Regions from separate parts of the Homo sapiens genome. Here region 2 is linked to region 1. Evidence: fine-mapped expression QTL. A gene starts in region 1. The other region holds a variant in brackets. All regions are shown on one strand. Distances are from middle to middle. Region 1 holds the start of LINC02175 (long intergenic non-protein coding RNA 2175). Region 2 has its middle 14 kb from the start of ARHGAP17.

Region 1 (5,260 bases):
ACAGGCAGGTGGGTGGTGACAGCGACCATGACCACGGGTCAACCTGGGCCTCAGACACTGGGGAAAGGTGGCCATGTCCAGTTTTCTCAGGAAATTAGGAGGCAGGTCATCCGAGGAGAGAGGGTGTGTCTGGGGTAGGGTGGAGTAGCTTTCAGAAAAGTGTAAGTCTGGCAAAAGCACTCAGGAAAATGGGACAGAAAATGAGCCAAGCGCTGGATGGCAGCGTTCATTCAGCCCAGCTGAGCTTGGAGGCCATGAAATGCTGGCAGCCCCACACTGCAAGACTGCAGGGTCTTTCTGGGCCACGCCCCGAATCCCAGGTATGGAAGTGAAGGACCCAAAAAGAGGAACGAATCAGGCTGTTATTCTGCAGAACAGGTGAAAGAAAAAAGCCAAGTAGACAGAGCCTTGGAAGTCAAAGAGTCACCCACATGCCTGACCCAGTCAGAAGAAAGGGGACCAAGCCAGGGCGGGAGGGACTGTGTGGGAAAGAGGAGGCTGAAAGGAGGAGAGACCGCGGGCAGAGGTGGACAAGGGACCAAGGTGAAGACCTTTGAGGTGCTTCTTGAACCACAGTGGTGAATGTCTTTCTGGACAAGAGTGCCAGTGCCCACCGCCATCACAGGACACAGCCCCATCCGCACTCCCGGGACAGCAACATCTCATTGTCCCAAACTCTGCCAATTTCATCAGTGAAAAGTGGAGCCTGGAAGCTTTGCATTTCTTCAATGACTTCGAATTTTTTAAAATGGTCTCACAGATTTCCTGGTCATCGGTATTTCATCTGAAAAGTCTCTTTCTGTGATATCTGCTCATTAGAGCGGAGTTCTTAAAATTATTAGAGAGTGTTATACATTCAGTATATTCACCTCTGTGGTGGTTGCTCTCAGTTTTGTCCAGTTAGTCATTCATCATAAATTTAACTTTGATATCATAATAAAACAGACAAAAGTGTAGTTATTATGTGCTTAAATCTACAGGTGCTTTTTTAAAAAGTTCTTTTTAGAGACAGGGTTTTGCCCTGTCGCCCAGGCTGGAGTGCAGTGGCGCGATCTTGGCTCACTTCAGCCTCCACCTCTTGGGTTCAAGCCATCCTCCTGCCTCAAACTCCAGAGCAGCTGGGACTACAGGTGAAAATATCACAATTATATGTTAGAGAGAGAGAGAATGAATCATTGTAAAACAATGAAAAGGTGAAGAATGTCTGTTACCTGTGTAAGTAACATCTACATCAACCCTCACCTGAAGTTCCTCACCTCTTCCCTTGCTCTTTTCTTCAGCCCAAACACGGTGTTCAACGTTCTTCCCAGTCACCGCCCAAGGCCGCTGTCTTAGCCCTGCCGTCATCACCTCTCTGAGCCTACTGCAGTAGCTTCCTATCTGGGTTCCCTTTCCATTCCTCCCGGGTCCCGACTCCATCGGCTGCCAGTTGACTTCCCACAGCACCAACTTTTCTCAGCCTTCTGCCTATGAGAGCTCCCCAAATTCTACCACGGGAGCCCTCAAACCATGATCCTCCCCAAAACGTGAACAGCAGCTTCTCGAACCATGGACAGATGGCACAGATGACAACCGAAGCCAATCACCACTGCCTGTCCCTGGAAGTGGACGCTCCGGGTCATGGGTGGCCATGTATCTCGGTCCTGCTATCCTGGGTGGTTGGAGGAATTCTAGCAGTGAGAGTTGAAAACCGCTCGGCGCGCGGCAAGAGAGGATGAAGCCCGAGTCTGACCTGGGAAGGGAGCTGCTCCCCGGGCAGTGGACCCCAGGGCTGGCGGGGAGGCGGCCTCGGTCAGCCCAGTTGGTCTCGGGCCGCTGGGCCTCAGCCCCCAAGCCTGGTGCCCGCTGGCCCCGGAGGAGCTGTCCCGCCCCCTCCGGCACTCGCCTTCCGGGGCTTGGTCGGCTAGCTGCTTCACGCGCGCGGGCTGGGGGCCCCAACGGCGGACGAGCGCTGCTCCCACCGCTCCAGCGCCCAGACTGTAGCGGCTCCGCCTCCGCGGTCCGTTGGCCCCGCCCCCACGTCTCTTCCGGGGCCCCGCCCACCCCCTTCGGGCCCGCCCAGCACGGCCTCCCCTTGTGGCCTGGAGCCCCAGGCCGAGGGCGCAGAGACCAGAAGGCCGAGCTGGGCGGCGACCCCCGTTCTTGCCCGGTCACTTCCTGCGGCGCCGCCTGCCCGCTGGCAAACTGTGGCTGGGAGACCCTTTAAATAGAACGTATTAGCCAAAACTAGAAGAGCAAAATATGTACCATGTTTCAATTTAATGGGATTGCCAGGTGTTTTAAGGGTCCGCCGCAACGGTCCCTCGAGTCCCGGGGTTTTTGTCCCCATCAGATCATTCGTGGTGTGGATCTTCCGGGAGGTTATGGGAAAGGGAGACCAGCAGCCGGCTCCGTGGGCGGCCATACTGCTCCCCCAGGAAGGCCAGGCAAATCTTCAGTGCTGGGATCCCCCTAGTACGTTCATTTTGTCTAGGGTCCAGGTGGGGCCATCGAGCCCCTTGCCCACAGGATTGGTCCTTTGGCATGCAGATAAGCAACACCGCCAAGAAAAGCCCATGGGGTCTTTAGGCTGTTAGGAGACCACCAGGGAGCCATTCCTAAATCTTCCCAGGTGATGGTTCCAAAAACCCTGGTGTTTGGGGAAAGGAAAAAGGGTTATCCACAGGACTATGCTGGAACACTTTCCCAAACAGTGTCTGCCTGGCTGTCCCAAGCAGCCGGTGATGGAGCGATGGTCATGAGGCTAGACCAAAGACCACAGAGTCTAGCCTCACTCTAGTGGAACTCAGGCACCCACCCGTTAGGATGTCGTGTTGCTGCTGCCCCCAGGTGGGAGCCTGGGAAACCACCTGGCCGACACGGGCCACACCTGATGGGACCTCACAAGGAGATACAGTCCATTAACGTTCGTCAGGGTGGGAAGAAGTGGCAACACCTACTGAGATAACAAAACTCATTAGCTGAAGGGCAAGCTGGCCAGCAACTGGCAGTGATGTTCTCAATAGTCCTGGCCGCCTTATAAAACCAGCTACTTAGGCCGGGCACGGTGGCTCACTCCTGTAATCCCAGCACTTTGGGAGGCTGAAGTGGGTGGATCACAAGGTCTAGGAGTTCAAGACCAACCTGGCCAGTATGGTGAAACCCCGTCTCTACTAAAAATACAAAAATTAGCCTGGTGTGGTGGTGGGCGCCTGTAGTCCTAGCTACTTGGGAGGCTGGGGCAGGAGAATCGCTTGAACCCGGGAGGAGGAGGTTGCAGTGAGCTGAGATCGCGCCACTGCACTCCAGCCCGGGAGACAGAGCAAGACTCCGTCTCTAAATAAATAAATAAACAAACAAACAAAACCAGCTACTTAGTAAAGGAGCAGCTAGTTAAAGCTAACCAGGGGTCCTCAATCAAGGATGGGCCACACTGTTTGTGATGCCAATCGTTTTATTCACACTCTTTACTCCATTGATGAAAGAGGGATTCCTTCCCCCCACGCTCCTGCCCCCGCCCCTGTCCCCACCCCCAGAGATACGGGGATGGCCGAACACACAACACTTGATGCAGGACGGATGCAATCAACAGCAGCTGACTGGTCACAGATACTCCAGTCCAGGGGAGAAGGACCCTGCACACTATGCAGGGCAATGTGGAGGCTACACTCCGGAACACGGTAACAAGGAGGGGCTGCTGGAGGCAGGCTTTGTAGTAACAAAAGTGCAGAGTGAGCCCTGGTTCCCACGGGAGGGTGTGACTGGCTTGTCTGAATAATTCGTCCTTGAGCTGGCAGGGAACTGAAGCCTACTGTTTGGGGATAAGCAGGCTCTGTGTCTGATCCCTAAAATAAGGAGAGTGTTTAGCCAGAGAATTTCATCTGCGGAAGCAGACAGGGAGCGAGGCTTGGAGTTCAGCCATTTGAGGCCCTCTTGATTTAAATGGATGTAAAGACAGAATTTGATATGAATCCTAATTTCAGGCCTTACACCACAATACACTATTAAAAAGTAAGTTTTCCGAGAACTAGTCATTGAGTTCAGTGTCACAAGATTTTAAATAAACATTCTAAACTCAACTGTGGCATAGTGGTTCACGCCTGTAATCCCAGCACTTTGGGAGGCCAAGATGGGAGGATTGCTTGAGCCAGAGGTTCGAGACCAGCCTGGGTAAGATGGTAAGGCCCTATCTCTACAAAAAAAATATATAAATTAGCCAGGTATGGTGATGAGAGCCTGTGGTCCCAGTTCCATGGGAGGCTGAGGTGGGAGGACCACTTGAGGCTAGGAGGTCAAGGCTGCATTGAGCCATATTCACGCTGCTGGGCTCCAGCCTGGGTGACAGAGTGAGACCTCATCTCAAAAAATAAAGAAAGAAGATAATTTCACCTATTGCTTAACATAGAAAATGGGAGCCCTCAGAATGAGACTCCCTTAACTTCCCCAAGAAACTTAACCATCCTTTTTTACTCTTACAGTTGTGAATGTCCTCCAGTAAAGACCACATGAAACACTTTGTAGTTAAGCAAGTTGGGTTTATTACTTGTTGCAAGGAGGGAAGACTCACACCATGAGGAGCCTATCAGTAAGAGGATGTTAGACCTTTAGGATCTGGGCTTTGGCTGGGTGATTTGGGGGAGGGTCCAGGGGTTTGCTCTGGATCGAGTGCTGATAGGAGGTAGGAAAATTCTATCATCCGGTAGCGGTATCTTTTCTAGAAAGAGGTTTGGCTGGAGTAGGGCTAAAGCTACAATGTGTAAAGAAGCCACAGTCACTCCTATCAGCTGGGAGAAGGGAATGTCTGGTATTCTGTGGGTGGCACAGTGACCTTGCTTTTGTCCTTACACAGAATGATGACGTGGTCTCGTGTCATCTCCTATCATCACCACTGCAGAGTGTCCTTGTGTGAGTGGTCTGCATGATTGTTTATGTCCAATAGGAGAACAACATGGCCTTGTTGTGGGCACCAGCCAGCTTCCAAAAACATACGGCCTGGCTCACAGCACCAGGCAAGCTCCTAGAAGTCAGTTTTGCTTTTCTGTTTTTCACAGTGGAGGAGGTGAGCCTTAAAGAGATCGATAAGGGTTTGCCCGGCAGAAGAAAACAGCGTGAGCAGAGGCATGGAGTCTGCAGTAGAACTGCATGTTAGGTGAACCTGATATAGGGTCAGGAGGGGTAGCAGGAGAGATTTCTGGACAGGCTTTCACACAGTGAATCGTGGAAGCTCCCCCAAATCACCCAGCCAAAGCCCAAATTATAAAGATCTAACATCCTCTTACTG
Region 2 (5,488 bases), 36 kb after region 1:
CCATTTTTGTAGAATGAATGAGTGAATAAATGGAGGACACTCAAGCCTCATGTTTTCTCTTTCTGACACATACCTGTGCTCCCTACGACCCCACCCTCACCATCACACCCTTAATAGTGGAGACTTAGTGTGGTACTGGCTTTTCAAACAGGTATTATGTGGCCCTAGACAGGTCATTTCCTTCACTGAAAGTCATCGCCTGAGTTTCAGGTGCACAACGGGGATCATACCTAAAAGAGAGAGAACCTCCACCTCTCATCCTCATAATCTACGGAGACAGTAGTTAGGTGCATCATGTTTGTCTTTCTAGCAGCGTTTAGCTCCGAGAACGCCAAGACCCCGTCCGCCTGGTTCAGGGGCCTGCTCCCATCCACAGTACCCAGGCTTGCTCCAAGCCTGGCTCACAGCAGGAGCTCAGAAACGATTCGTTAAATAAATGAAGCCCTGTTCTGTGCATTTCACAGGTGGGAAGCGAGGGTCGTGCGAGGCGGGGGCAGCAACCTGCCAGCCTCCGAGCGTATTCTTCAGATGCAGGCCCGCCTCCCACCTCAGCCCGCGTCCCAGATGCCAGCCCCGAATCCCGCGCCCGACAGGCGCTTCTTGCACAAGGAAGCATCTTCGCAGGTGCAGCCCACGCCCTCGTCGCCCGCGTCGCAATTCCAGGTGGAAAAGCAGGAGGTGAAGGAAGACTCCCTCTGTCTAGTGGCCATGGGCGTGGAGGTTCCGGGGAGCTGTGTCCGCCAGACATGGAAGTGGGGTCGACGGGCGGTAGGGGACGGCGCTAGTCACAGGCAGAAAGCAGGAGAGGAAAGTAGGGCTCCACCTGGCTCAGCTGGCGCGGCTCAGTGACACCCCGGAGGCCGGCTGCCCCAGCAGCCTCTCCGCCTATTGGCTCCTCTGCCTAGTCGCTCATTGGGCAATTATCCCTTCCTCTCAGCCTACAAAGGTACTCATTGGATAAGTTTTTTGGCCCCGCCCACCCAACCCGGAAGTTTGCCGACGGAGAAAGGAAACTAAAAGTCAGTGGCGGAGTACCGCGATGCTTTCTGGGAAGTGTAGTCTTAGGTGCCTGGAGAGGCCACCAGGTTTCTTCTGACTCGTCACGGAATTTTAAGGGCAGAGAATCCAGCCAGAAGCAAATGTCAGCTGTTACGTTCAGTCTGGGCTCGTTGTCACTCAACAGTTTAACAAAATTTTGTTAAGTGCTGTCCATGCCAGGGACTGTGCTAAGAGCTTTAGAGACATAATCGCCTTTGAAATGTAGTAAAGGAAGTAGCGTGTGGAAAAGTAATAGAATGGGAAACCACGTGGCAGTAAAAATCAATGAACTCGAACTCTCAGGTAGCATCAAGGGCTGAATTTCAGAAACGTGATGTTCAGTGAAAGAAGGAAGTCTAACGACACTTTTGTAAAGTTCAAACCAAGTAAAACTAATGTTGTTTAGAGAAACATACATATACGGTAAAATACTGTACAGAAAAGCCAAGACATGAGAAAAAAAAAAAAGTCAGGACATTGATGACCTCTAGGGAGTGGGACGGTAGCATACGAGAGGGTAGGGAGAGGCAGGGAAGGAGCACATAGACACATTCTCAGTTTCTCAGGTGGGAGTGAGTTCACGTGTGTCTGTTTCATTATGATGCATATTCAAGATGCATCTATTTTTACTAGTTTTGTTATAAAATATTTTATAAATAAAAGAAGAACTATGCTACTGTATTCCACTTGATTATCTGTCAGGTGTTGGACACAGGCAATGGGTATACTTTAAGAACTTTGAATCACACCTATTTAAAAAAGCAAAATAGCTCTCTCTCTTCTGCCGCCACGTAAGATGTACCTGCTTCCCCTTCCACCATAACTGTTAAGTTTCCTGAGGCCTCCCCAGCCATGCAGAACTCAACATCCTTGCGACTGGGGGCCATTATCTTAAGTGAAACAACTCAGACACAGAAAGTAAAATATGCATGTTCTCGCTTCCCTGCCTACAAGCTGAGCAGACGCCAGCACCATGCTTCCTGTAAAGCCTGCAGAACCACGAGCCAATGAAACTGCCTTTCTATATAAGTTTTTTTTTTTTAAAGCAAAATAACAGAAACCCAGAATATACACCTTGGGGTGAGATCAGATAGCAAATGCTTGCTTAGTATTCAGTGGAGACACAAGATCTCATTGACAGTCAAGGCAGAAATGACAGTGGGGAATGGCTGAGGTTAGGAAGTTTTGCCAGGGATAGCAGCAATGGGCTGAAATACACCATTTTGTTGGAGCATTCCTCTACCAAAAAGGTAATACAAACCACTGCGCAAGCATTGTCTCCCAGCTTGGCAGTGTCTAAATTCCATGGGTGTTAGTGGATAATGTCAAACAGTAAGTAGCACAAGATGTTAATCCCACAGGTCTGGACGGTGAGACTGAAGGTGACTAGAAGAAGGTGGAGGCAGATGTATTGGCACACCTTTGTTATTGGGTGAGCCTTGATTCAAAACAGCTGGTAATTCAGGGAAATTTGGTTAGTTGGACTCTAGACAAAGTGAACTTACTGGGTGTGGACCACGACACTAGTAGATTGACTGGCATTCTCTGGAGGAGGAGGATGGCTACCCATAGAGCAGGCTGCTGGCCTCCCTTTCCTCATAACCTCTGAGAAGAGTCACATGTGATCTGATGACAAAAAAACCCTGTAACTTGAGGGAATTTGGACAGGGGTGGGGATACCCTTAAAACACCTGGAATCCAGCCAGGCACGGTGGCTTATGCCTGTAATCCCAGCACTTTGGGAGGCCAAGGTGCACGGCTCACCTGAGGTCAAGAGTTCGAGACCAGCCTGGTCAACATGCTGAAACCCCATCTCTACTAAAAATACAAAAATCAGCTAGGTGTGGTGGCGGGTGCCTGTAATCCCAGGTACTCAGGAGACTGAGGCAGGAGAATCACTTGAACCTAGTAGGTGGAGGTTGCAGTGAGCCGAGACC[G/A]TGCCATTGGACTCCAGCCTGGGTGACAAGAGCAAAACTCCATCTCAAAAAAGAAGAAGAAGAAGAAGAAGAGGAAGAGGAAGAAGAAAAAGAAGAAGAAGAACCACCTGGAATCCCACTAAATTGAAACATGGTACACTGTCAGCCCAAGTGGCTACACTTCAGGCAGTAAGCACTGAATGGCTATCTTAGTCCATTTTGGCTGCTATAACAAAATATCATAAACTAAGTGACTTATAAACAAAAGAATGGCTGGGCACAGTGGCTAATACCTATAATCCCAGCACTTTGGGAGACTAAGGTGGGAAGATCACTTTAGCTCAGGAATTCAAGACCAGTCTGGGCAATGTGGCGAAACCCCATCTCTACAAAAAAATTTAAAAACTAGCTGGGTATGGTGGAGTGTACCTGTAGTCCCAGCCTTGGGACTGGGCTGAGATGGGGAGGATCACTTGAGTCTAGGAGTTCAAGACTACAGTGAACTATGATTGCACCACTGCACTCTAGCCTGGGTGACAGAGAGAGACCCTGTCTCAAAAAATAAATACATATATACATACATAAAAATAAACCACGGAAATTTATTTATCATGGTTCTGGAGGCTGGCAAGTCCAAGGTCAAGGCAGATTCTGTGTCTGGTGAGGGCCTGCTTTCTGACTCATAGATGATGCTGTCTTGCTGTATCCTCACTTGGTCAAAGGAGCGAGGTGTCTCTCTCAGGTCTCTCTTATAAGGACACTAATCACATTCATGATAACTCTGCCCTCGTGGCCTGATCGCTTCACAAGAGCCCCACATCCTAATACACTGGGAGTTAAAATTTCAGCATTTGAGTTTCAGGGAGACAGAAACATTCAGACCACAGCAATGCCCTAGCCAACAAATGACTCCATCTCCATATTTATAGCAAACTCTTGGGCCATTGTCTAAGAATTGTTCCCTTTGTGCTCATAAAGAACTCTGGGAATCTCTTGCCTCATAAATACTGAAAATATAAACCGAGGTAATAGATAACTCATGTTTTTAAAATGGTCGGGTGTGGTGGCTTATGCCTATAATCTCAGCACTTCGTGAGGCCAAGGCAGGAGGATCACTTGAAGTCAGGAGTTCGAGACTAGCCTGGCCAACATGGCAGTCTCTACTAAGAATACAAAAATTAGCTGGCTACCTGGGAGGCTGAGGCATGAGAATCACTTGAACCCAGGAGGTGGAGGTTGCAGTGAGCTGAGATTGTATCACTGCACTCCAGCCTGGGCGACAGAGTGAGACTCTCTCTCAATTAAAAAAAAAAAAAAAGATATCTCTACATCTACGTATACAAAGGCCACAATATAAGGTCTCACTGTGGCACTCCATATACTCTTGGAAGTCCTACACATTACTGGTAGTGATCAGGGTACTTATTTCACATCTCAGAATCCACAGTGCCTCATGGGCTCTTGGAGAAGGCATTAATAGAACCTTCCACTTCTCTGATATCCCCAAGCAGCAGGCTCGAGAGGCATACGTGCTCCTGGAAGAACTCTTATTTAAGTTACAAAGTGGAAAATGCACATCATCCCTTCACACCTCCACTCCTGTTTCCCTGTCACCACAGTCATCGATTAGTCACACCTCAGCGGGGACCCACAATTCCTATGCCAGTGCCACACAGGTCCCTCAATTGCCTGTATTGGCCAGCCTGGGGGACATCTGTAAAGCTCATGTTTTTGAAGACTACCTCGCCCTGTGGTCCTCTTTCTCGTGGTTAGGTGCTAAACCCAGGAGGTGGAGGCTGCAGTGAGCTGAGATCGTGCCCCACTCCACTCCAGCCTGGGTGACAGAGGGAGCCTCTGTCTCAAAATAAATAAATAAATAAAATAAAAGTAAAATGTTTCTAGTGCAAACTTTGTTGAAGGCATCACCCTGCTATGATTAGGCTTATGGGTTTAAAGTTATTTGGGTAATAGTCTGTTTGGGGTTTGCAAGAAGTGACACGTGGCTGGAGGGTGGTCTATGAGTAGAAAGCAAGGCTCTAAAGGCAAGTCCTCAAATACCCTGTTAAAGTTTGGACTCCAGGCAGTGGAAACTCCTGAAATAATTTAAAGTAGGTAAGCAACGTTATCAGATTTTCATGCCAGAAAGTCCACCCTCATGGCGGTGTGGGGAATGGATTCAAGGGAGGCCAGGAGTGGAACCAGCAAGGTCAGTAAGGAGTCAATTGCCCCAGTCCATATAAGGACAGGAAGGAATGGACCACAGACATGGGGACAGGGAAAAGAGGAACAAAATGTGATATATTCATTGGTTCATTGGATATGAAGGGGGTGTGAAAGAGAGAGAGAGACACAGCACTTTGTTAGGCCGAGGAAGGCAGTTCACCTGAAGTCAGGAGTTCGAGACCAGCCTGGCTAACATGGTGAAACTCCGTCTCTACTAAAAATACAAAAAATTAGCCAGCTGTGGTGGTGCACACCTGTAATCCCAGCTACTCAGGAGGCTGAGGCATGAAAATTGCTTGAACCTGGGAGGT

Evidence for each region. PIP is the estimated chance that this variant, and not a neighbour inherited with it, causes the effect. A credible set is the group of variants that fine-mapping cannot tell apart.
Region 2: its variant is the best candidate, but not a certain one, in a credible set for the expression of LINC02175 in cultured neurons (Aygun 2021, PIP 0.74).

What each region holds. Positions count from the first base shown.
Region 1 is chr16:25,063,643-25,068,902 of GRCh38, reverse strand. It overlaps LINC02175 (long intergenic non-protein coding RNA 2175), which reads right to left and starts at 2,016. Exons shown (of 2, transcript NR_135197.1): 1 at 1,257-2,016; 2 at 1-1,124. RefSeq lists a silencer at 1,724-2,113.
Region 2 is chr16:25,027,103-25,032,590 of GRCh38, reverse strand. It overlaps the pseudogene LCMT1P1. Among named protein-coding and RNA genes, the nearest start is that of ARHGAP17, 14 kb to the right of the region's middle. RefSeq lists an enhancer at 945-1,124. The variant G/A (reference allele first, on the strand shown) is at 2,976.